Linked DNA regions of Homo sapiens: all the other regions are linked to region 2. The links come from fine-mapping of genetic effects on plasma protein levels. A gene starts in region 2. Each other region holds a variant in brackets. All regions are shown on one strand. Distances are between the middles of the regions.

The links. PIP is the chance, under the fine-mapping model, that this variant and not a neighbour inherited with it causes the effect. The UK Biobank Pharma Proteomics Project read protein levels with antibody pairs (Olink). The fine-mapping took linkage between variants from a reference panel, not from the people measured, so its PIPs are less certain.
Region 1: its variant is fine-mapped to the plasma level of the BTC protein (UK Biobank, PIP above 0.99).
Region 3: its variant is fine-mapped to the plasma level of the BTC protein (UK Biobank, PIP above 0.99).

The regions. Positions count from the first base shown.
Region 1 is chr4:74,709,628-74,717,813 of GRCh38, forward strand. No RefSeq gene overlaps it. Among named protein-coding and RNA genes, the nearest start is that of BTC, 81 kb to the right of the region's middle. The variant A/G (reference allele first, on the strand shown) is at 4,205.
Region 2 is chr4:74,791,285-74,799,458 of GRCh38, forward strand. BTC (betacellulin) reads right to left here and starts at 3,239. Exons shown (of 6, transcript NM_001729.4): 1 at 2,978-3,239. The coding sequence starts at 3,041.
Region 3 is chr4:74,699,330-74,707,515 of GRCh38, forward strand. No RefSeq gene overlaps it. Among named protein-coding and RNA genes, the nearest start is that of BTC, 91 kb to the right of the region's middle. The variant T/G (reference allele first, on the strand shown) is at 3,371.

The sequences.
Region 1 (8,186 bases), 82 kb before region 2:
TATTTGGTTGAGCAGTGGTTTGTAGTTCTCCTTGAAGAGGTCCTTCACATCCCTTGTAAGTTGGATTCCTAGGTATTTCATTCTCTTTGTAGCAATTGTGAATGGGAGTTCTCTCATGATTTGGCTCTCTGTTTTTCTATTATTGGTGTGTAGGAATGCCTGTGGTTTTTGCACATTGATTTTTGTATTCTGAGACGTTGCTGAAGTTGCTTATCTGCTTAAGGAGATTTGGGGTTGAAACGATGGGGTTTTCTAAATATACAATCATGTCATCTGAAAACAGAGACAATTTGACTTCCTCTCTTTGTATTTGAATACCTATCATTTCTTTCTCTTGCCTGATTGCCATGGCCAGAACTTCCAATACTATGTTGAATAGGAGTGGTGAGAGAGGGCATCCTTGTCTTGTGCTGACTTTCAAAGGGAATGCTTCTGGCTTTTGCCCATTCAGTATGATATCAGTTGCGGGTTTGTCATAAATAGCTTTTATTATTTTGAGATACGTTCCATCAGTACCTAGTTTATTGAGAGTTTTTCACATGAAGGGGCACTGAATTTTATCAAAGGCCTTTTCTGCATCTATTGAGATAATCATGTGGTTGTTATCATTGGTTCTGTTTATGTGATGGATTATGTTTACTGATTTGCGTATGTTGAACCAGCCTTGCATCCCAGGGATGAATCCGGCTTGATGGTGATGGATAAGCTTTTTGATGTGCTACTGGATTCAGTTTGCCATTATTTTATTGTGGATTTTTGCATCAATATTCATCAGGGATATTGGCCTGAAATTTTCTTTTTTGTTTGTGTCTCTGCCAGGTTTTGGTATCAGGATGATGCTGGCCTCATAAAATGAGTTAGGGAGGAGTCACTCTGTTTCTATTGTTTGGAATAGTTTCAGAAGGAATGGTACCAGCTCCTCTTTGTACCTCTGGTAGAATTTGGTAGTAACTCTGTATGGTCCTGGGCTTTTTGTGGTTGGTAAGCTATTAATTACTGCCTTAATTTCAGAACTTGTTATTGGTCTTTTCAGGGATTTGACTTCTTCCTTGTTTAGTCTTGGAAGGGTGTATGTGTCCAGGAATTTGTCCATTTCTTCTAGATTTTCTAGTTTATTTGCATAGAGGTTTTTTTAGTATTTTCTGATGGTAGTTTGTATTTCTGTGGGATCAGTGGTGATATCCCCTTTATCATTTTTTGTCAATTTGATTCTTCTTTCTTTTCTTCTTTATTAATCTGGCTAGTGGTCTTTTTATTTTGGTACACTTTTCAAAAAACCAGCTCCTGGATTCCTTGATTTTTTGAAGCATTTTTTATGTCTCTATCTCCTTCAGTTCTGCTCTGATCTTAGTTATTTCTTGTCTTCTACTAGCTTTTGAATTTGTTTGCTCTTGCTTCTCTAGTTCTTTTAATTGTGATGTTAGGGTGTCGATTTTAGATCATTCTCCCCTTTCTCATGTGGGCATTTAGTGCTGTAAATTTCCCTCTACATACTGTTTAGCTGTGTCCCAGAGATTCTGGTACATTGTGCCTTTGTTCTCATTTGTTTCAATGAACTTATTTATTTCTGCCTTAATTTTGTTATTTACCCAGTAGTCATTCAGGAGCAGGTTTTTCAGTTTCCATGTAGTTGTATGTTTTTGAGTGAGTTTCTTAATCCTTCTTCTAATTTGATTGCACTGTAGGCTGAGAGACTGTTGTGATTTCCATTCTTTTGCATTTGCTAAGGAGTATTTTACTGCCAACTATGTGGTCAGTTTTAGAATAACTGTGATGTGGTGCTGAGAAGAATGTATATTCTGTCGATTTGGAGTGAAGAGTTCTTTTATGTCTATTAGGTCTGCTTGGTCCAGAGCTGAGTTCAAGTCCTGAATATCCTTCTTAATTTTCTGTCTCATTGATCTGTCTAACATTGACAGTGGGGTGTTAAAGTCTCCCACTATTACTGTGTGGGAGTCTAAGTCTCTTTGTAGGTCTCTAAGAATTTGCTTTATGAATCTGGGTGCTCCTGTATTGGTTGCATATATATTGAGAATAGTTAGCTCTTCTTGTTTCATTGATCCCTTTACCATTATGTAATGCCCTTCTTTGTCTTTTTTGATCTTTGTTGTTTTAAAGTCTGTTTTATCAGAGACTAGGTTTGCAACCCTGCTTTTTTTTTTTTTTTTTTTTTGCTTTCCATTTGCTTGGTAAATATTCCATCATCCCTTTATTTTGAGCCTATGTGTGTCTTTGCACATGAGATGGGTCTCCTGAATACAGCACACCAATGGGGCTTGACTCTTTATCCAATTTGTCAGTCTGTGTCTTTTAATTGGGGTGTTTAGCCCATGTACATTTAAGGTTAATATTGTTATGTGTGAATTTGATTCTGTCATTATGATGTTTTCTGGTTATTTTGCTTTTTAGTTGATGCAGTTTCTTCATAGTTTCAATGGTCTTTATAATTTGGTATGTTTTTGCAGTGGCTGGTACCGGTTGTTCCTTTCCATATTTAGTGCTTTCCTCAGGAGCTCTTGCAAGGCAGTCCTGGTGGTGACAAAATCTCTCAGCATCTTCTTGTCTGTGAAGGATTTTATTTCTCCTTCACTTATGAAGCTTAGTTTGGCTGGGTATGAAATTCTGGGTTGAAAATTCTGTTCTTTAAGAATGTTGAATATTGGCCCCCACTGTTTTCTGGCTTATAGGCTTTCTGTAGAGAGATCCACTGTTAATCTGATGGGCTTCCCTTTGTGATTAACACAACCTTTCTCTCTGTCTGCCCTTAACATTTTCCTTTTATTTCTACCTCGGTGAATCTGACAATTATGTGTCTTGGGGTTGCTCTTCTCAAGAGGTATCTTTGTGGTGTTCTCTGCATTTTCTGAATATGAATGCTGGCCTGTCTTGCTACATTGAGGAATTTCTCCTGGATAATATCCTGAAGAGTGTTTTCCAACTTGGTTCCATTCACCCCATCATTTTCAGGTACACCAATAAAACATGGGTTTGGTCTTTTCACATAGTCCCATATTTCTTGGAGGCTTTGTTCATTCCTTTTTCTCTAATCTTGTCTTCACACTTTATTTCATTAAGTTTATCTTCAATCTTTGAAATCCTTTCTTCCCACTTGATTGATTTGTCTATTGATACCTATGTATGCTTCATGAGGTTCTCATGCTGTGTTTATCAGCTCCATCAGATCATTTATATTCTTCTCTAAACTGTTTAATCTAGTTAGCAACTCCTCTAACCTTTTTTCAAGGTTCTTAGCTTCCTTGCTTTGGGTTAGAACATGCTCCTTTAGCTTGGAGGAGTTTGTTATTACCCACCTTCTGAAGTCTACTTCTGTCAATTCGTCAAACTCATTCTCCATCCAGTTTTGTTCCCTTGCTGGTGAGGAGTTGTGATCCTTTGGAGGAGAAGAGGCATTCTGATTTTTGGAATTTTCAGCCTTTTTGTGCTGGTTTTTCCTCATCTTCATGGATTTATCTACCTTTGGTCTTTCATGTTGGTGACCTTTGGATGGGGTTTCTGTGTGGACATCTTTTTTGTTGACATTGATGCTATTCCTTTCTGTTTCTTAGTTTTCCTTTTGACAGTCAGGCCCCTCTGCTGCAGGTCTGCTGGAGTCTGCTGGAGTTTGCTCCAGACCCTGTTTGCCTGGGTATCACCAGTGGAGGCTGCAGAACAGCAAAGATTGCTGCCTGTTCTTTCCTCTGGAAGCTTCATCCCAGAGGGGCACCCACCAGATGGCAGCTGGACCTCTCCTGTATGACGTGTCTGTTGACCCCTGCTGGGAGCTGCCTCCCAGTCAGGAGGCACAGGGATCAGGGACCCACTTGAGGAGGCAGTCTGTCTATTAGCAGAGCTCAAGCGCTGTGCTGGGAGATCCACCGCTGTCTTCAGAACTGGCAGGCAGAAACGTTTAAGTCTACTGAAGCTGCGCCCATAGTCGCCCCTTCCCCCAGGTGCTCTGTCTCAGGGAGGTGGGAGTTTTATCTATAAGCCCCTGACTGGGGTTGCTGCCTTTCTTTCAGAGATGACCCACCCAGAGCGGAGGAGTCTAGAGATGCAGTCTGGATACACCAGCTTTGTGGCACTGTGGTGGGCTCTGCCCAGTTTGAACTTCTCAGTGGCTTTGTTTACATGGTGAGGGGAAAAATCCCTACTCAAGCTTCAGTAATGGTGGATGCCCCTCCCCCCACCAAGCTGGAGCTTCCCA[A/G]TTTGACTTCAGACTGCTGTGCTGGCAGCGAGAATTTCAAGCCAGTGGATCTTAGCTTGCTGGGCCCCATGGAGGTGGGATCTGCTGAGCCAGACAACTTGGCTCCCTGGCTTCGGCCCCCTTTCCAGGGGAGTCAAATGTTCTGTCTCGCTGACATTCCAGTAGCCACTGTGGTATGAAAAAAACCTGAAGCTAGCTTGATGTCTGCCCAAATGGCTGCCCAGTTTTGTACTTGAAACCCAGGGCCCTGGTGGTGTAGACATCCAAGGGCATCTCCTGGTCTGCAGGTTGCAAAGACCATGAGAAAAGCACAATATCTGAGCTGGAATGCACTGTTACTCATGGCACAGTCCCTCAAGGCTTCCCTTGACTAGGGGAAGGAGTTCCCCAAGCCCTTGCACTTCCCACATGAGGTGACGCCCATCCTGCTTCTGCTCACCCTCCATGGGCTGCACCCACTGTCTAACCAGTCCCAGTGAGATGAGCTGGGTACCTCAGTTGGAAATGCAGAAATCTCCTGCCTTCTGCATTAATCTCGCTGGCAGCTGCAGACTGGAGCTGTTCCTATTCGGCCATCTTGCCAGCCAAAATTGATTTTGGACTTCTGGCCTCCATAATTCCAAGAGAATAAATTTCACTTGTATTAAGCCACCCAGTTTGTTACAGCAGCTATAGAAAACTAACACAGATGCCAACTTGTCTGCAGCTCAGCTATCATAACAATAACATAATGAACTTCACACCATAAGACTATCAACTCTTAACAACTCCCAACTTTATAAAAATTCTTTCATAAATTAAACAGCCAAAAATTATACATAATATGGGAAGTGTGGTTATATTTTAATATATCTGATATGGTGAAAAGCAAAGCCTCTAAAAATAAAAGATACTAGGAATATTAATGTCTTAACATGTTCGTGAGTCTGTGGGTCCTGAGATGCTCTCTAATTACTTGGAAACACTCCCAGTTGGATTAATTAACTGCCAGCTTAAGTAATTGGGAGTAACAGCTATTTCATTGTTTAACCACAGATGCATTGCCCTCCCTCCCACATACCAGAATAGGGAGATTAAGCACATGGCCAGAGAAAAAATAAATGTACTTTTGATGAGAATAACTTTTTTTGGCCCAGCTTTACTATTAATTAGTATTTTCACAAGAACTCTGTCCAAGTTATGAAATGTATTTAGGTAATCCCAAGTACAACAAGTAGACAGGTATAATGTCAAAATCTCATAAGTAGAATGTCAAAATCTCAGAATGTCAAAATCTCTTTGACATTACAGCTGGCTTGTGGCATGGAACAATTTTTTCCATCTTATACTTTTCTGTGTATCTTGAATTTTTTAACAATAAGCAATAATCCCCTCTCAAATCAGAAAAAAATAGAAATAAAGAGGAACACCCTAAATTTACTTAGTTTCTATTTATGTTCGAACATGGAATCTTGGACCCCAGTTACTTTGCTTCAGTGCTTACTTGCCATCAAAGAAGCCTCCTTTGTATTGACTGAGCCCAAAACCTGTTCTAAGATTTGCCGGCCTGGTTCCTTAGACATACTGACTGCCCCCCCTTTACTCTGTCACTACAGCAGCAAAGAGCACCATAGAGTATGGCTTATTAAGGTCTCTATCATGGTATAACTGAGCAAATCAGTGCTGACACACTTTCTAACACTTTCTAACAAAACATACCATTTAAACAGCAACAACTTTTTTTTTTTTTTTCTTGAGACAGAGTCTTGCTCTGTTACCATATTGGCTGGGGTGGTCTCGAACTCCTAACCTCAAGTGATCCACCTGCCTCGGCCTCACAACATGCTGGAATTACAGGCATGAGCCACCATGCCTGGCCTACAGCAACATTGATGCTTGGTCTCCCTTAGACTTGTGAGATGGCCCGAGGAACCTTGTTTTAACTCAAGATTAATTCTACGTAACTATAAGTCTTTATTATTCTTATCAAGACCTTACATGTGGTCTTCTATTCAGGTAGAGACTAATCCACAAGGTTGGCAAGTTACACACGGAGAGAGGTAATTTACCTTCCTAACCAGTTTCAGTTTCATAATCACAGCACCATTAGTTTCACCTCTGCATATAATTAAGCGAAGACTCACCCAGCTGTAGCCATGTAAGCTGATCATTCAAAATCCACATATTTAGCTTTCTGTCCTTTCTATTTCTTCTCTCTCATCTCCCTAGGTAGTTGTGAAACACAAACCCCCAAACATCTTCAAAAGCTGTCACAGATCATTGCAGAAGCATAAAGTACTTTTAAAGCATTTCTGCCATGGAGATAGATTCCTATCATATCTTTCCTTTCAATTAAAGCCTGACTGGAATATGTTTAGCAGTGAACAATGAAGTCTGTTTATGAAAAGTTGTTACTAATTTGTGCAAGCACATTTCTACGGGTTTAAAGCAACTATGAATCACACAAATCCATGTGGGCAAGAAAAAAATTTTAATTTGAGTTTCCAGGTCATTTTTACTATGTGAGTTCTTTCTTTCCAAAACTAATTACTGAAGGAAGCAGGGCAGGGTGAGAAGAGAAACAGCCAAGCTAAGTAAAAAGAAAAAAGAAAAGACTAAGCATTTTTCTTGAGATCAGAGAAATCACAATCATGTAACAATGTTTTTTACCCTGCTAAGACAGAAACCAATTTCACTGACTTGAGACACACTCCAGAAGAGAACTGGGTTTCTCAGTGAACCATGAACTGCCTCTGACCCTCAGTTCCCATCATTGGAAATCAGAGCCGTGGGCCAGTTGGGCAGTTTCCATGCTGTACTCAGTGGCATTTGGAGGGTTCTGAGCATGTGCTTAGGGGCAGCCCAAGTTCCACACCCTTCAGCTTTTATCTGTTATGTACATTAACTCACATAAGATTTTTGTTTTAGAAAGAAATAAGATGTGGATTTTTGTTGGTTTGTATAAGACAAATTGAAAAATAAGACTGGTTAATAGTAACTATAAGAAAAAAATATCTTTACATTTTATGGTGCCTGGTCCCATAAATTATTACTATTTTTTATTATTATTATACTTTAAGTTTTAGGGTACATGTGCACAACGTACAGGTTTGTTACGTATGTATACATGTGCCATGTTGGTGTGCTGCACCCATCAACTCGTCATTTAGCATTAGGTATATCTCCCAGTGTTATCCCTCCCCCCTCCCCCCACCCCACAAGAGTCCCCAGTGTGTGATATTCCCCTTCCTGTGTCCATGTGTTCTCATTGTTCAATTCCCACCTATGAGTGAGAACATGTGGTGTTTGGTTTTTTGTCCTTGTGATAGTTTGCTGAGAATGATGGTTTCCAGCTTCATCCATGTCCCTACAAAGGACATGAACTCATCATTTTTTATGGCTGCATAGTATTCCATGGTGTATATGTGCCACATTTTCTTAATCCAGTCTATCATTGTTGGACATTTGGGTTGGTTCCAAGTCTTTGCTATTGTGAATAGTGCCACAATAAACATATATGTGCATGTGTCTTTATAGCAGCATGATTTACAATCCTTTGGGTATATACCCAGTAATGGGATGGCTGGGTCAAATGGTATTTCTAGTTCCAGATCCCTGAGGAATCGCCACACTGACTTCCACAGTGGTTGAACTAGATTACAGTCCCACCAACAGTGTAAAAGTGTTCCTATTTCTCCACATCCTCTCCAGCACCTGTTGCTTCCTGACTTTTTTTTTTTTTTTTTTTTTTTTTTTTTATTATACTCTCAGTTTTAGGGTACATGTGCACATTGTGCAGGTTAGTTACATATGTATACATGTGCCATGCTGGTGCGCTGCACCCACTAATGTGTCATCTAGCATTAGGTATATCTCCCAGTGCTATCCCTCCCCCCTCCCCCGACCCCACCACAGTCCCCAGAGTGTGATATTCCCCTTCCTGTGTCCATGTGATCTCATTGTTCAATTCCCACCTATGAGTGAGAATATGCGGTGTTTGGTT
Region 2 (8,174 bases):
TGAGCTGAGATCATGCCACTGTAACTGAGCCTGAGCGAAAGAGTGAGACTGTCTCAAAAAAAGAAAAAAGAAAAAGAAAAAGAAAAAGAAAATACAGTAGAGAAATACGAGCCCATTTTGGAAAATCTCATTTTTTGAGAAAGTAAGATTAAATGGCTCAGGATTTCTACTGACTTAGAAAATGCCTTTAAACAGTTTTAGAAAATTAAACCAAATTAATGCATATAAAGAATATCGATAACACATAAACGTGTAATTTATATTTATATTAAATGTATTTGTACCATATAATCTGCTTATGGTATACCTTCTTTTTATATCTCCAACCCCACTTCTGTCTTTATAAAATTTCTCAAAGAAAGTAGTACCTAATTTGCATATGTTAGAATGGAAATTATCCTGTAAAGATGCATCTACTAAATGCCAGATGTATTTAAGGAGCATCTACATTTGTAATAGACATAAGCCATTTCTAATTTAAATCACATGTTATTTTGTTTACTTTTTGAAAAGAATGTGACATGGAAAGGGCATCACCATCTAATGAAACCTCTTCATTTTACAAATTAGAAAAACAATGCCCAGAAAGTTGTAACTTACAGACATCTCGGAGTCATGAAGTGGTAGAGCTGGAACCAGGGCTCATGTCTGCTCAATGCCCACTCTCATCGCATTTCCACCATCTCACACACACACACACACACACACACACACACACACACAAACACTAGTGTCTCATGCATCTTATTGCTCACATTCTTTTCAAAAAGTAAATAGAACAACATGTGACATAATTTAGGAAGGGGACTTAAAAGTAAAGTGTGTATGACAGAAATAGGGCCACTTAATGGAAACAGCGATGCCAACAAATTACGTTCCTTAGCATTTTGCAAGAAATAGAGCTTTAAGGGGATCTAGAGACCAAATTCAATTTCCCAAGCCAATCATTTAACAGGGCGGTTGTACATTTAGGTTACCCTGAGTGTACAATAGCACTGGATTCGAGTTTTGCTTTTTGATTTTCATTTCTGTCTTTTGACAAGTTTTGTGATAGTAAAGGGGAAAGAATGTCCATCGACTTTCAATAGTCATTTCTACTATGACACCTCTGCTAAAACATCACCCTAATTTAGGCCCCAAGTAGCTCATGCCCAGATTATACCTACGAGACAATCAGGTCCTCTGGCCCACAGGCGCCCCCCCTTCCTATACTGCACCTCACTGACAGATTTATCACCTTTAAACCATTGTTTGCATCATATCACTCCCAGTCAAGCCCTGTGATGGTGTGTGTTTAATAGCTTATTGATTCTGTTCCAAATATTCTAATCTGGCTTTTTCAGTTCTTCATAATCTGTCTGCCTCTCAGAAATTCTACTCTTTCCAGTAAAGCATGCTCATTCGCATCGCCAACCCTTTACTAAATGCTTTTTCCCTTGTCTCTGTTCCCTCTTTCCTCTCTACTATTGCAAACTCTACCCAAGCCTCAAGGCACGCATTCGTGTCCTCCATTCAGCCTTTCCCCACTATTCCAGCCCCCGCTGTTGAGCTCTTTCTCCCTTTTCTGATTCCGTGAATTTTTCCACAGGTTACCCTGCTGGGCTTGCATATCCAAATTCAGTGCAAGTTCTAGGGCAGGAATCATGTTTTATTTTAGGAATCTCATGAGCCCTTTCCCCACCTCCATTGCTACATACCTCAGCACCTTGCTGACTACGACAGATTCTCAGGGAATACTTTGACTGTTGGATAGTTTAGACACGGTGGAGGAAGAGAATGTCAGCTACTTGCAAGCAATGCTGGCAAAAGCATCAGTACTATTTCTAGGGTTAAGTCTCAACCCCATTGCTCTTCTTCATGAATGTACACATTCACTCTACCACTAAATTGTTACTGACTCCTTCCTCTTCAGCGTTTGTTAAATAAGTTTATTTTCTCTAACCTTGGTCCTAAGTCTGATCCACCTCCAAGCAAGTTCACTGTACCTTTTTAGCCACCTCTCTTACTCCAAGGACACAGTCAAATGAAAGTTTTCATTTAGGCTCCCCCTCTCTTTCCTCAATAAGAGGAATTCCCATTCTTTTTCATTTGTGGTGTCCCCTTCCCAGGCTTGAAGGTAGGAGTGATATCGTGGTGACACTTCAGCTGTGGAGACTCTCCTCCTACCACATAAATGCTCCAAACCCAGATGTGTCTACAGCCCAGCTAAGATTAGAAAATGTTACTGGTTTCCCTTCCCTTCTCTGCCCCGCAAAATGACCATGATGCAGAGAGCAAGCTTTGAAGAGTTGGGATTTTTTCCTACTTAGAAGCCTTCTCACTACCTTCCCTCGGTGGAGGGGAAGGGGAAGCCTGCTTCCAGCCACATCTGAAGTTCCAGCTCTGCTTTGTGAGTTCTGACTCCTAAGGAGGCAGGAGAGACCCTCTGGAGGGCTCTAGGCATCCTGCTACTCCTCCTCCCGCTGGCACTCTTCCCTAACGCCAGGTGATCACACCTTCAGTCAAAGAGTTCCCGTTCTTCTGCCTCCTGCAGGATATGCTTCTTGGTCTATACTACCACGTGAGCTTCTTTAGTGGGTTTCCCTGCTCGCCCCTGCCCCCACCCCCCGACCCTCACTTGCGAGCACAGCGCCTCACCCCGGTGGACAGCCCGCCGGCGCCGCCAGGCCCTCTGCTGTGCGCACAAGTCAGCAGCTGGCGGCCTGCTCGCAGCACTGGCAGCGAGGACCTCGGAATCGCTTCCGCCCTCGGGCCTTCTCACGCGTCTAGGGACTGCCTCCAGCAGGTGCAGCCCCAGGTGCCCAATTGCCAGATCTTTAACCTCGCGCTCTCCCAGCCTTCAAAGTTCTCCAACCCGCGCCTGCCAGCCCCAGCGCGCCCTCTTGTCCAGATGCCAGCTCGGTTCAGGGTTCGCCCTCCCCGCGACTCCAGCCCCAGACTTTCCTCCTGGTTTCCAGTGCCCAGCACGGCCACTTACCCAGGGCAAGGGCCAGGAGCAGTGGCAGGGAGCTGGCGCCGCTGCACCGGGCGGCCCGGTCCATCAACCCCGCTCTGCCGGGCCGGGCAGCCCCTAGACAAGTCTCCCTCCTTCTTCGCCCCCTTCCCGGGCCTCGGGCGCCTGAGAGGGTGCCTGGAAACTAATCCCGGAGGCAGAAGGAAACGAAACTACTTCCCAGGCTGGCACCCTGGCTACAAGGCAGGGAAACACCCAGGGCGGGAGGCCGGCCGGCTCCGTGAATGTCGCCGGGAGGAGGGAGCCTCCTATTTATCCCCCCTCCTCCTGCACACACCCCGCCAAAGAGGCGCAGGACTTGGTCCTGGGAGCCTCCACGCTGCTCCCACCCAAATTGCCCCACACCCATACCCACACCCAGGGACATATTCGGGCTGCCCTCGGACCAGCTCACCACTCCCCCTGCTGGGTCTCACCTGACTGACTGTTCATTTCCCTACCCCCTAGGGCGTAAACAAGGTAGGGAGGGAGATGTAAAGAATCCGCGTGGAGGGGTGTCGGGGGTTCCGGTCGGGCCTGCAGGCTGACCTAAACTCCTGGAAGCCACCGAGGAAGAGTCAGAGACCCAAACGTGTTCTGGAATTCTAACTTCCTTTATTTCAGAGGATTGCTAGTGTCATGGAGAAACCAGACTCACCATTCATTGTGGTTGACTTCAGGCATTTGATAATGCAGGCAATTTCAAAAGAGTCATTGTTGCCTTTTAAAGTCTTGAAGCCATAGCGAAACCTCGTCTCTACAAAAAATACAAAAGTAAATTAATAGCCGGGTATGGTGGTGTGCACCTGCAGTCCCATCCATTCCCTGAGGCTGAGGTGGGGAGGATCGCTTAAGCTTGGGAGATGGAGCCTTCAATGAGCCTAGATCGAGCCACTTCACTCCAGCCAAGGCGCAAGAGTGAGACACTGTTTCAAAACAACGACAACAACAACAACAACATCAGCAACAAAAAAAAAAAAAAAAAAAAAGAAAAGAAATGAAAAAAGTCTTCAAGCTAGTGTCTTAGTTTCTGGGTGCATTGTCTTCTAATAATTCATAAAATTGGGGCTCACCAGGACCTACTTTAGAAATTTCATTTGTATTTCTGTTTATGAATTTACTCATGTATTCAGTATATTTTCATTTACTTGCATTAAGCAATTTCTGGAACAGAAAGACATCCTCACAGCTTTTAGAGAAAGCAAGCAGCATCCAATTTTACCTTATGTGGTTATATATTGCCTCCAAGATAACCAAAAGATACAGCTGCTTTTGTACTGGTCTGTGTTCCTCATATAAGATTTATGTGGATAATTATGCCCCTCAGTACAGAAATTTTATTTCTATAGCATCCAAAAGTCATGTAAGCCTTATTTTACATATGAAATGTAGTTTGGGTGTCTGCCTCTTCCTCCTCATCCTACTGTTTAAGTTAAGTAAATTGTTGTGCACTTGTCTCCCACGAATAACATTTCATTTCAAAACTAAATTATTTTACTGCCCCAGGCAACTGATATATCCGGTGGAATAAAAATCAGCTCTTAATTTTCAGAATCCCATTCTAGTCCCACATGACAGCTCATAAAACATTGGTAGAGAGGGCAGGCATGAAGTTTAAAGAAACCCAAAGTTGTAAGATGGAAGGTTACTGCACCCCAGCTAAAAAGAGCAGAAACACTGGAAGCCAATGGATTTTGACATCATCTCCCTCCCTCTCAACACTTCCACCCTGCATTTTTCTTTTCTGATATTCTCTCCATCTCTCAGCACCAGTGCCCTAAGTTAAAGTATCTCTTACTCCAAGATGGCATTTAGCCTAGCCAACAGCTGTCCTGTTAGCCCCAACAGAATGCTACAATTTTGTTTTCCTTTTTCGTAGATACTAATAAAAAAAAAAAAAAGCGAGACCTAAACAAAAAGTACTAAATGTTTGTTGAGCATTGGAAAATTCCAGGACTTGGTGTAAGTATTCATCATTTATGCCATTCAAGTGGTAAATTAACTTTTTCAGGCCACTAGAATATGAAGTAGTATAATTTAATATACTAAATAGGACAGATAAATTAATAACCTTCCTTGAGGGCTTTATTTACCACCATAAATAAAATAAGTACTCCCAAGAAAATCCAAATTTTCTGACACTGGATATCCAATCTCTTCAATGTTAAGAGACTTTTCCTGTCTTTTTTTGTTTGTTTCTTTTTTTTCCCCTCACTTTCTTTCTCTCTGTTCTTCCTCCTCTTCTTCCCTCTCCTTCTCCTTCTTCTTTTTCTCCCCCAGCCCCCAACCACCTCTCTCTCTCAAGTCATTTGCTTATGGGGCATGGTAAAGCTGGAATACAACCATTACATTTGGAAGAGTGGAAGGTAAGAATTGATTTTCCTGAGTCCTCAAACATGTAACTGAGTTGCGTCTCAGTGCTTTCATTTGCAAGCTGAGCTGTTACTAAGAGAAAAATAAACCAAAGTTACACCAGAGTCACAAGGTGAAACTTGTATTCCTAGTTAACCCCAAGGTAGGAATTGCTTGAGTGCTGTTCTTCCTGTGCCAGGTTTAGGCAGGTATAACCAGTCCTCCCAAATCTGGTATGAGGCTTAAGTAGATTCCTTTGGAGGGCCTTTAAGCATCAGCCTTTTTCTCTTCCCACACAGAACAGCCTGCAGCTGGGACCGTCCTCCCCGTCTTCTGGACAGGACAAAATAAACTTGTAGTTACATATAGGGCACAACACATAAACAGACACACGCCATGATGGAAAGGAAAATTTTGGAATGCATTCCTTCTAGGCCAACATGTATTCTCCAAATGAAGGCTTTAAGGCATTCAGTAGTATAGGAAAATTTCCTAATGACCATTAACTTTATTTAATAAGAGTGGGTGAATGAAAATGATGAAAGGCATTTTTAAAATTGTAATTTTTATAGTAATGATAAGCATCATGCATTGTAGATTATTAGTGGTACAGTTACATAGAGAGAACTTTCAAATATTTTATTTAAAACTACTGAATTGGTTTCTAAGAATGTATCAGTGAAAAATCACTGCTCAAAAGTTGTATTCAGGTAATTGTATTTTATAATCTAGTTGTTCTGAGGGAGGTAGTTATTTTTTTTCCTGCCTACTTTCTTGTATCTTCCTCTTCAGTCTAGGGGATCCACTTTTTATATGTATTTCTCAATGTGTTTGATTTGTATCTCTTTTATTTTTATTTATTTTGTTTTTTGAGACAAAATCTTGCTCTTGTCCCCCAGGCTGGAGTGCAATGGCGTGATCTCTGCTCACTGCAACCTCTGCCTCCGGGTTCAAGCAATTCTCCTGTCTCAGCCTCCCAAGTAGCTGGGGATTGCTGGCACCTGCCACCACACCCAGCTAATTTTTTGTGGTTTTTTTTTAGTAGAGATGGGGTTTCACCATGTTGGCTAGACTGGTCTCGAACTCCTGACCTCAGGAGATCCACCTCGGCCTCCCAAAGTGCTGGGATTACAGGCGTGAGCAACCACGCCCGGCTGACTTGCTATCTCTTTTAAATGGCAGCTTAACATATGTTATTAAACCTCAAAAATAATTGTCTCTGTGACATTATACCTGTTAGTTTCAGTTCACCATGATGATCTTTTTCTTTGGCCATATTGAAACATACTTCAAAAAGTAACTTCTGATTTTAAAAAATCTGGGCTTTTGTGCTGGCCCTAGTTGTAGGCTAAGTGAGAAAGCACCTATGTGGCCCTAGACATCTCTTCCTAAAGTCCTTGCCACAGTGGCTTCATCTCTTCCTACTTGGTCCCAGACTTCCAGCAAGGTAGACACTCCTCTAGGTGGGACAACAGAGCTGGAATATTATGTACAATTGGTTTTGGAATCTGTTCAGTCTGTTCAATTTGGATCTGTGTCACCCAATGACTGAACCACAAACTACTTACCTCTCTGAACCTCAGTTTCCTCATTGATAAAATGTGATGGTAATGACTTGCACAGTTTTTATGATTCCCAATAATACATATCTTCAAGGAAAAAATCTGGTGTATTAGAAACTGTTCAGTGAATTATAGTTGATAGTAGTAGGAGTAGGAGTACTAGTAGTAGTAGTATTGGTAGAGATGGGTGTCTCACTATGTGACTAGTCTCGAACTCCTGGCCTCAAGTAATCTTTCCTCCTCAGCCTCCCAAAATGCTAGTATTACAAGCATGAGCCACCATGTTCCACTGATAGTTGTTATGTCATTATAAAATTTTACATGGTACATAGAGAGAACCAGTAGGAAAAGGCATCCTTACTAACCCTCTCTTACTAATAGTTGAAGTAGAGAAAGAAAGGCACAGAGCAAGGCTCTGCTGGGAAAGTAACACTGAGCTAAAATTCCATGGATTTGGGTACAATTTTGCCTCTTCATATGCCCTTACACCTCCCTTACACCTCTCTGACCACCTTCTCCATCCTTTTTATTTCTCCTTCCTCCTTCAACTCTCTTTAGAGACCAAGATAGCACGTAACCCAGGATACAAAAACGTGTTGAATATAAACAAAGTACTGTGATTTGAAGATTTAAATAAATGAGCTACCTAGTTTCCCAGAATGCAAAGAAATAAATTCAAAAATTAACTCAAAAAATGAATGTTTGTTGTTGTTGTTGTTGTTGTTGTTGTTTTTGAGACAGAGGAGTCTCACTCTGTTGCTCAGGCTGGAGTGCAATGGCGCAATCTTGGCTCACTGCAAACTCTGCCTCCCGGGTTCAAGTGATTCTCCTGCCTCAGTCTCCCAAGTAACTGGGATTGCAGACATGCATCACCACGCCAAGCTAATTTTTGTATTTTTAGTAGATACGGGGTCTCCCCATGTTGGCCATGCTGTTCTTGAACTCTCGACCTCAGGTGATCCACCCAGCTCGGCCTCCCAAAGTGCTGAGATTACAGGTGTGAGCCACCGCACCCAGCCAAATAATGAATGCTTAATGAGTTTACAACAAACTAACACAGCTTTACGTGGTCATTTTCCCTCCTTCCCCCAACTTCTTGGTAAGGAGAAATGGTGACAGGAAAGAGTAAGAAATGAGAAGCAGCAAAGCTGGAGAAGAGAGGGAGGATGAGCTTAAAATAATTCTTCAAAAAATCTTTCATAGATGCAGAATGATATGTTAAAGGAGTTAAAAAAAAGGTGAAATCTACCTCTTGTATCATCTTCGTT
Region 3 (8,186 bases), 92 kb before region 2:
CTCTTCCCTATGCCCCTCTCCTGACCTCCTCAATTGCGGGGGCTGGAAAGCTAAAGCACTCACCTTCCCAGACATGCTTGTAGCTCAGGGTAATCAAGTAGCCCAGAACTGGCCAATGAGGCATGGGTAGAAGTTACTGGTGAGATTTCCAAGAAATATGATTGGTTTTTAAGGGACAGTCTGGCCAAAGGCTGTCGTTCCCTTTGGTCCTTCCGTCTTCCTGACCCCTTCCTTTTTCTTCTTGCCTAGACTAGGTAATTAATACCTGGAGGTGTAGCAGGCATTTTACAACAGTGAAGTAGAAATTTTAAAATGGTGGAACGAGACAGAAAGAGCTCCTATGACACCATTGAGAAGCTGCTCCAGAGCCACGCTTCTTATGACATGAGAAAAATAAACTCCTATCTGGTGGAACTACTGTGATTGAATCTTCTGCCATTTGGATGTGAATTAATTCTTAACTGACATAATGTGGACTACATGCTCCAGTCATTAAAGTATATGTTTTAGAAATAAGAGTATTTATCAAAGTGTGTTAAAAGATTTTGATCAAAAGTCAGTCCTATGAACAATGGTTTGGGAAACACCAAGTTAAAGCAAATTAAACAGCTTACTTTATTTAAGGAAGTACAGGATACTGCATTTCCCTCACTTATTTCATTATCAATTTCAATGCCCTGGTTTCACTAGAACAAAGTTTGGGAAATTCTGGTGTATGACATATCAATAATATAGGACATAATTAATAACTTTTTCCTAAGTAAAAAAACAGGTTATAGTATGTATTTATGTTTACGAAGATTATGTCTTCTGAACATTTTTATCTATTTACTTGTTTTTCCATACTATCTAAATAAAATATAACTACTTATGTCATTCTTGTAATCAGAAAAAAAAAAACACAATACTGTTTTCTCAGTAGAATTCTGCTTACTTGGGGGGAATGAATGGAGACATGTGTTAAGTTCTTGCATGTTGTATTAAGTAATAGAACTACATTCCGGTAATGTATCTGCCTTAGATAGCATGACTATTCTAAGGCTGCTTCATGGATCACGAGGTCAAGAGATTGAGACCATCCTGGCCAATATGGTGAAACCCTATCTCTACTAAAAATACAAAAATTAGCTGGGTATGGTGGTGCAGGCCTGTAGTCCCAGCTACTCGGGAGGCTGAGGCAGGGGAATCGCTTGAACCAGGGAGTCAGAGGCTTCAGTGAGCCAAGATCGCACCACTGCACTCCAGCCTGGTGACAGAGCAAGATTCTGTCTCAAAACAAAAACAAAAACCAAAACCTACTGTTTGCTTAAAAACCTGCTGACAGAGCACATGACCAGCTGTGGAGATGAACACGGGAGGGATTGGGGGTGGGGGTTGGGGTTCTCTGTTTGTTCCTGAGAAAGTAAGAAACCCTCAGCTCAGACTAGTCTGTGGCACCAGCAGAACTGTCTTGAGGAGAAGATAGAAACTGTTGCATAAAGAATACTCTGAAGAAGGTCCTCACATGAGTGGCAGTCAGACAAGCTCACGGTGAGTACAGGTGCCTTCAGTTCTGTCAAAATGTTAAGATATATTAAGGAATAAATTAAGGAATATTAAAACCATCAGAATTTTATTTCTTCTACATCTAAGTGACCATATATAGTTGTAATGTGGCCAAAACTAACTTGCCACAAAAAATATCAATTATTTGTAATTTATTTAGACAATGGCTCTTTTTGAGGTTTTTAAAGAAAATTTAAAATGAAATACAAACTCAATTTATAAAATTATTTTGCTATGGGGTAGACAGTTAAATAAGGCCTAAGAACTCAATGGAAATAATGTATAACTATTAATATTCTGATTTTAATAGTTGTATTGTGGTTATATTGGAAACGTCATTTTTGTGGGAAATACACACTAATGTATTTGGAAATGATGGGACACCCGTTTGGAAACTTTCTTTCAAAAGCTTCAAGAAAAAAGGTCTATGTATTTTTCTTGCAACTTTTCTGTAAATTTGTGATGATTTCAACAATATAAAAATGCATTTAAATCAATGATTAAGCAAAAAACCTCACTAAATTCTATTCATCACCTTCTCCACACTTGTTTCAGATCACTAGAAATATCAGTTCTGCAAGCTCACACAACTGCGAACCAATTTATTAATGGACACGCTAAGCTACATTGCTGTGGAAAGGCATTGTCTTAGCATAGTTTTTTTCCAACGAGTACCCTGACAGCATCTCTATTTCTACTTAGAGGCTGAAAACACTTTGCCATTAAATAACTATTTTCAACAGTGAGAATTTTGTATACTAAAAAATATATAAAGATATCTCCTCCATAATCCATTACACTCTCCAAGGTATTTTCACATACCTTACATCACTGGATTCTCATCAGATTGGGAGGCAACTTGAGGGAGCTGAAAGAGAAGGAGTCCTAGACTAGGAAGGACTTGGCCTGTGATTCCAGCTGCACACATCCTGTGTGCCTTGGGAACATTGCCTAAATTCTCTGGGCCTCTCCTTCAATAGCTGCATCTCCTAAGTAATAAATGTGCCATTTACAATAATCACACTTTTCATTGTGAAGATATAGTAAAGTAAAAGTCACCAGGATGAAGTATAAATCACAATCAAGGATCACTTGTTTATCCAACCAACAATTATCCTGTACTTGTTCAGTGCCAAGCACTGTTCTAGGCACAGGAGACATAGCTATGCCCTACAGATATGGTTCCTGCCATCAAGTTCACAGTCTAATGGAAGCAGAGACAGACAGGACAATCAAATGATGATATCACCAAGTGACTGGGGTAAGGTAAAGAGTGACTTTAAGAAAGATAGTCACAGTGAGCTTCTTTAAGAAGAGCTGACACTTCAGTAACAGGAGGCAGCCGTGCTAAGACCTGCACGAGCAGCTCCCCCAGAGTGACCCATCAGAGGGGAAAGATGCCTTCAGAGGGAAAGGTTGCTTTGTGGAAATGCAGCTTTCTGTCAGTGTCCTGTGATCCCAGGCTGCAGAGTCTGTGAACACAGCATTATCCCTTCAGCTGCTGGTTGTTTGGGTACATTCATGGAGAAATCATATCAGGGTGAATAAGAGTACCCCAATTATTCTAACCTCAAACTCAAAGAGATTCAGCTAAAGAATAACCCTAGACTTTTAAGGAATTTTTTTTAAAGATAATGTGTGTATGTGTGTGTGTATGTGTGTAATATTATTCAAATTTTTATATGATTACATTTCATACGAATATTATTTCTGAAATCAGTTATTTTCTATTCTCCTAACTCAACAATTACACTCCCATTTACATACTATATTAGGGCAATTATCCTCAAGTATAATTAAGAAGCTAAAAAATGAGCACAGAAAG[T/G]CTTTGTGACCACATACAGGCAGACTGCCTTATAATTGAATTGCATGAATCAGGTAAAAAGCAAAGAAAGAAGAGAAAAGTTATTCCAACTCTAAAACCTCCGACTATCCGACAGTCATGGATTGTCCCCAAACACGGACTGTTAGTTTTATTGTCATTTACTTTGTACATTCACATCAGTAAAGTTTAGTCATTTGATTCATGCTTCAAAATTTTTTAATTGCAAAGTTTTCATGACTTAAAAATGGAAAACTCCTGAATTAGAAAGACTGTTCACATTTATGTGTCTGTCTATTTGTGCTAAAAATTATTTCTCCAGTCTACATTTACATTCCAATCTAGGATTGCTCTTAGAGAATTCTGAAATGCTTTCTATATTTGGTAGAACTGCATCAGAAACAAAAATATGCACATTTATTTCTTGAAGGATCATACCATGTTTAACATGTAATTCCAGCTCCCCTTTGCCTTTACATTTTTCTTTCATGGGGAAAAAAAATGCTTTCAAGGTATGGATGGCACAGGCCATTTGGCCTCAGACCAAAAATCACCTGAGGATCTGTGACTTCCTGGAATAGCTGGGTGTCAGTCATAGAGGTCCTGGTTCAGAGGCTGAGGCACACAAAGCCTCCTTATGTCAGGAGGGTGCTAGAGTCAAAATTCTCATCCTCTCCTTTCCCATCTAATCTCTATTCTTAAGAAGCACTTAAGGCACACAAAGTAAGTGTTGGGTGAATATTCCAGAATTAGCAAAGTGTGCTGAGACTTCTAATCATTTCACAACAGCGTTCTCTCCTTCTTTCTTTATATCTCTGAGTATTAGTTGAGTGAATGGCTGCTCTTCTACAGTCCACTTCTCCCAGCTAAGTGAGTTTGTGTGGTTGAGTGTTGGCCAAGAGTGTGTGAGCAGAAGCTATTCCCCAAAGGAAACTGCAACCCCTACACTGCTCTTTTCCTCACTCCTTGGACTGAACAACATTGACCACCCCAAGATGAAGGCAAATCCCTAGGGAGTAATAAAGCCATGGGATTAAAGGATCCTGGTTCTTTGAATGACATCATGAAACAAAGCCACCTACTTTTCAGCTGTTACATGACAGAAAAATATTACTAAACTTCTATTTTGTTTAAACAACGGTGCTTTCAGTTTGTTGATGACAGAAGTTCAATTAGTATCCAAACTAGCACCCACAGCAATTAATTCAACATGTATTTGATTATCTCCTTTCTTTGTGCTAGGTACTGTGCTACTTTCAGTGGGAAATTAAAAAAAAATCAGAAGATATATTTCTTGCCCTTACAGAGGTTAAAAACTAGTAGAAAATTATATGCACAGAAGTAACTACAAAGCAAGGGAGGATGCAAGAATGCATCAGAGAAGGAAGACAGCATAAAATTCTGTCAATCTGTTAAACTTGTAACCAACATCTTTTCTTGAATGCCAAATATGTGGAATGACAAGCCAGCCTGCATGAAAATGATAAGGGTGGTGAAGCTTATTTGCACCCATCTTTTTTGCCTGTTTCATATTTCTTCCTCCTTTCCCAGGCACCCAGAGCCTTCTGTCTTCTATAAACCTCCCTTGCAGTGTCCCAGCAGCTCTGGATGGTACCCTATGCCCATACTCCCCTCAGTATATGCATGTCAAGTTTCCTTTTTCCTCAGGTTCTTACTGCCTCTGGTTCTTACTTAACAAGTGTTAAAGGTATACTGTGTTGCTGCCTCTCTAGTAATAATAGCTAGCATTTCTTGAACATTTGCTATGTACCAGGTATTATTCTAAGCTCTTTCTATGTAACTCGTTTAATATTCACTGAAATCCCATGACAAAGGTACTGTTAGTAGGAAAACTGAGGCTCAGAGAGGTTCAGAAATTTGCCCAAACACACGCAAATAAGTGGTTTGTATTTGAACCCAGGCAGTCTGATTCCTGAGCATCCAGAATCTATGCTTTTAACTGCATACAGCACAACTTTTAGCATTTTGTCAGTCATCTTTGGAAAATAAGAGGTTTTAATGCTAAGTGTTGGGCTCACAGGAGTTAAAACTACTTTGGCAGGACAATAAGAAAAGATAATTTGCATAAAAAGTCCTCACATCAGACCTTGTAGATAAAAACCTACCAATGGCGTGCCAAACCAAGTTCACTGTTTCTCTTCATAAGGTTAAATGAAGACTCTTGAGGAGATAAAAGATTCCCTCATCTCAAGAACTTACTACCCAAATGACACTTGTAGTAGTCTTTCTGTTCCAGTGATGATCTGGTGCTCCTTTAAGGAAGGAGTGGGATCCTATAAATAGGAAGATGATCTGCTTGGGTGCCATTCTATAGGATGGCACTATTTCCCAAACTGGAGTATGTTTTGATTGTCTCTTCTTCACTCCATTGGTGAGGGAGGCATTCCCACCCTGGAATTATAGGGATGGCAGAACACACAACGCCCAGCACTGGGCAGATTATATCCCAGCAGTTTATCAGTCACATAGATGCACAGACTGGGGAAGAACACTGCACTCCACTCAGGACGGCGGGGTGAGTTGCATTTGGGAACACAGTGAACAAGCAGAGTTGTGGGAGGCAGGCTTTGTAGTACCAAGAGGGTGAGGTGACCCTTGATTCCTGCAGAAGCACGTGCTTGGCTTGTTTTAATAATGTTGCAGGCCCAGAATTAAAGCCTGCTATTGAGGGATAAACAGACACTGTGCCTGGTTCCTCTGGTAAGTAGTGTTGTTTGGCTGGAGGACTTTATCCACAGGAGTAGAGTGGAGGAGGGGGGAGCTTGTGATTAGGCCATTAAAAACTCTCCCAGTTTCAGATGGCAAAGAAGCACATAATGCTGAATCTTAATTTCAAGCCTGATACCACAAGGCGGAGGACAGTCACGGGTGATAGCAAGATGTGTTCATGTGGTTCACAACACATACATAAGTATATTGATTATCTAGTGAGAAAATTACTCCTTTTGCTGGGATTGAATGAGAATTTCATTCAATCCTCAGATTTTATCAAGGAGGAAATTTGGGGTCAATGCCATTGTGCATTTACCAGCTCTCAAAGACTTGCTCATCTCCCTTTCTAACAATAACAAAGCAAGTCCAAAACCTTTTCCATGGGCAGTTAATACTATCTATCCAGAATTTTAAAATATTGTTTCCTTTTCGTTGCATTAATATTTGTTGTTTGCCTTCTATTTATAGAGATGCTGATATTCTAATTACGATAGTGATATAGTTGCCTTTTAAATAACTATGAATTTAAAACACAGGAAATAAAGGAATATCAAGTAAATAATACTATAGTAAATAGCACAGAGAAATGTATAATTATTGAACAAGATTCCAACATTTGGGAAATTCTTTAGTATGAGATAATGGTTTTCCTGGCTCATCCACTATGGGCACAGTGATAATGACTGTTAATATTAACAGAATACATTAAGTTTGGATATGAATGGTATCTGAGCAAGTTCTTTCTAATTCAAGACACTCAAAGACTAAAGATTACAGAAAAAGTTTAGTTGCAAAGATCAAAACTTATATAATGAAATCAATTATATATAGTCCTATCAAACAGTAAATAACCACACACATCTGTAGTTCAAGTAATGGTATCGACTATTGTTTCCCTATCTCAGAGAATGAATGAAAACTAAGTTGGGGTGACAGAGGTTAAGCCTCTATTCTGGTTATAATCTTTTGTGATTTAGGCTACAGTTTTAATTTCTTTGTCATGTGCTTTATGTATTTTTTTTGAAATGATACAGCATAGTACATACAAGATAAGTTGGGCTTTATAGCTAAACAGACCTGGGTTCAAATTCTGCCTCTGCCATCCACTTGCTGGGTGACTTTGAACAAATTATTTAGCCTCTCTGTACCTTGCTTCCTCATCTATAAGAAGAGATTATACGTCATTTGAAGAAATTGTCTGAGCAGTGGAACTAGTAAGTAAAAAGGACTGTGTATAGTGCCTGGCAGCACAGTAAGCCCCTGAGAGCTGGCAAATGGAACAATCTGCTTAAAGTTTGAGGTTTAAAGTTTAATGCTTCTCTGTCTGAGCTGTAGTTAACATTAACTATTTCACTCTCTCTGTAATTCTCTTATTTGTTGCCACAGAAATATGAAATTCAAGAACTCTGTAGACAGAAGTCTCCTCCTTTGCCAACGCATCCTAGCAATTCCCTCTGCAAAATACCTCTTAGAAAAACACCAAAGACATGGACTCAGCCTAAATGCCGACCAAGGATAGACTGGAAAAAGAAAATGTGGTACATATACACCATGGAACACTATGCAGCCATAAAAAAATGGGATCATATCCTTTGAAGGGGCATGGATGGAGCTGGAGTTCATTATTCTTAGAAAAGTAAAACAGAAAAAGAAAAGCAAGTACTACATGTTCTCACTTATAAGTGGGAGCTAAATGATGAGAATACATGAACACATAGAGGGGAACAAAACACTCTGGGGACTTTCAGAGGATGGAGGGTCAGAGAAAAGAGAGGATCAGGAAAAATAACTAAGTAATTCATCACCCAAGTACTAGGCTTAATACTTGAGTGATGAAATAATCTGTACAACAAACCTCCATGACACCAGTTTACCTATGTGACACCAGTTTACCTATGTAACATACCTGCACTTGTACCCTGAAGTTAAAATAAAAGTTTTTTTTTAAAAAAAGAAAACACCTGCTCTAGCTATAGGTGATGCGATTTCTTTTAATCAAATTTGCTTTAGGTAGGGAGAAAGTCTCTATCATTATGAGCAAGGTGCCCAGGATAAAAGCTTCTGAAGGACTCACAGGAAAGTTTGA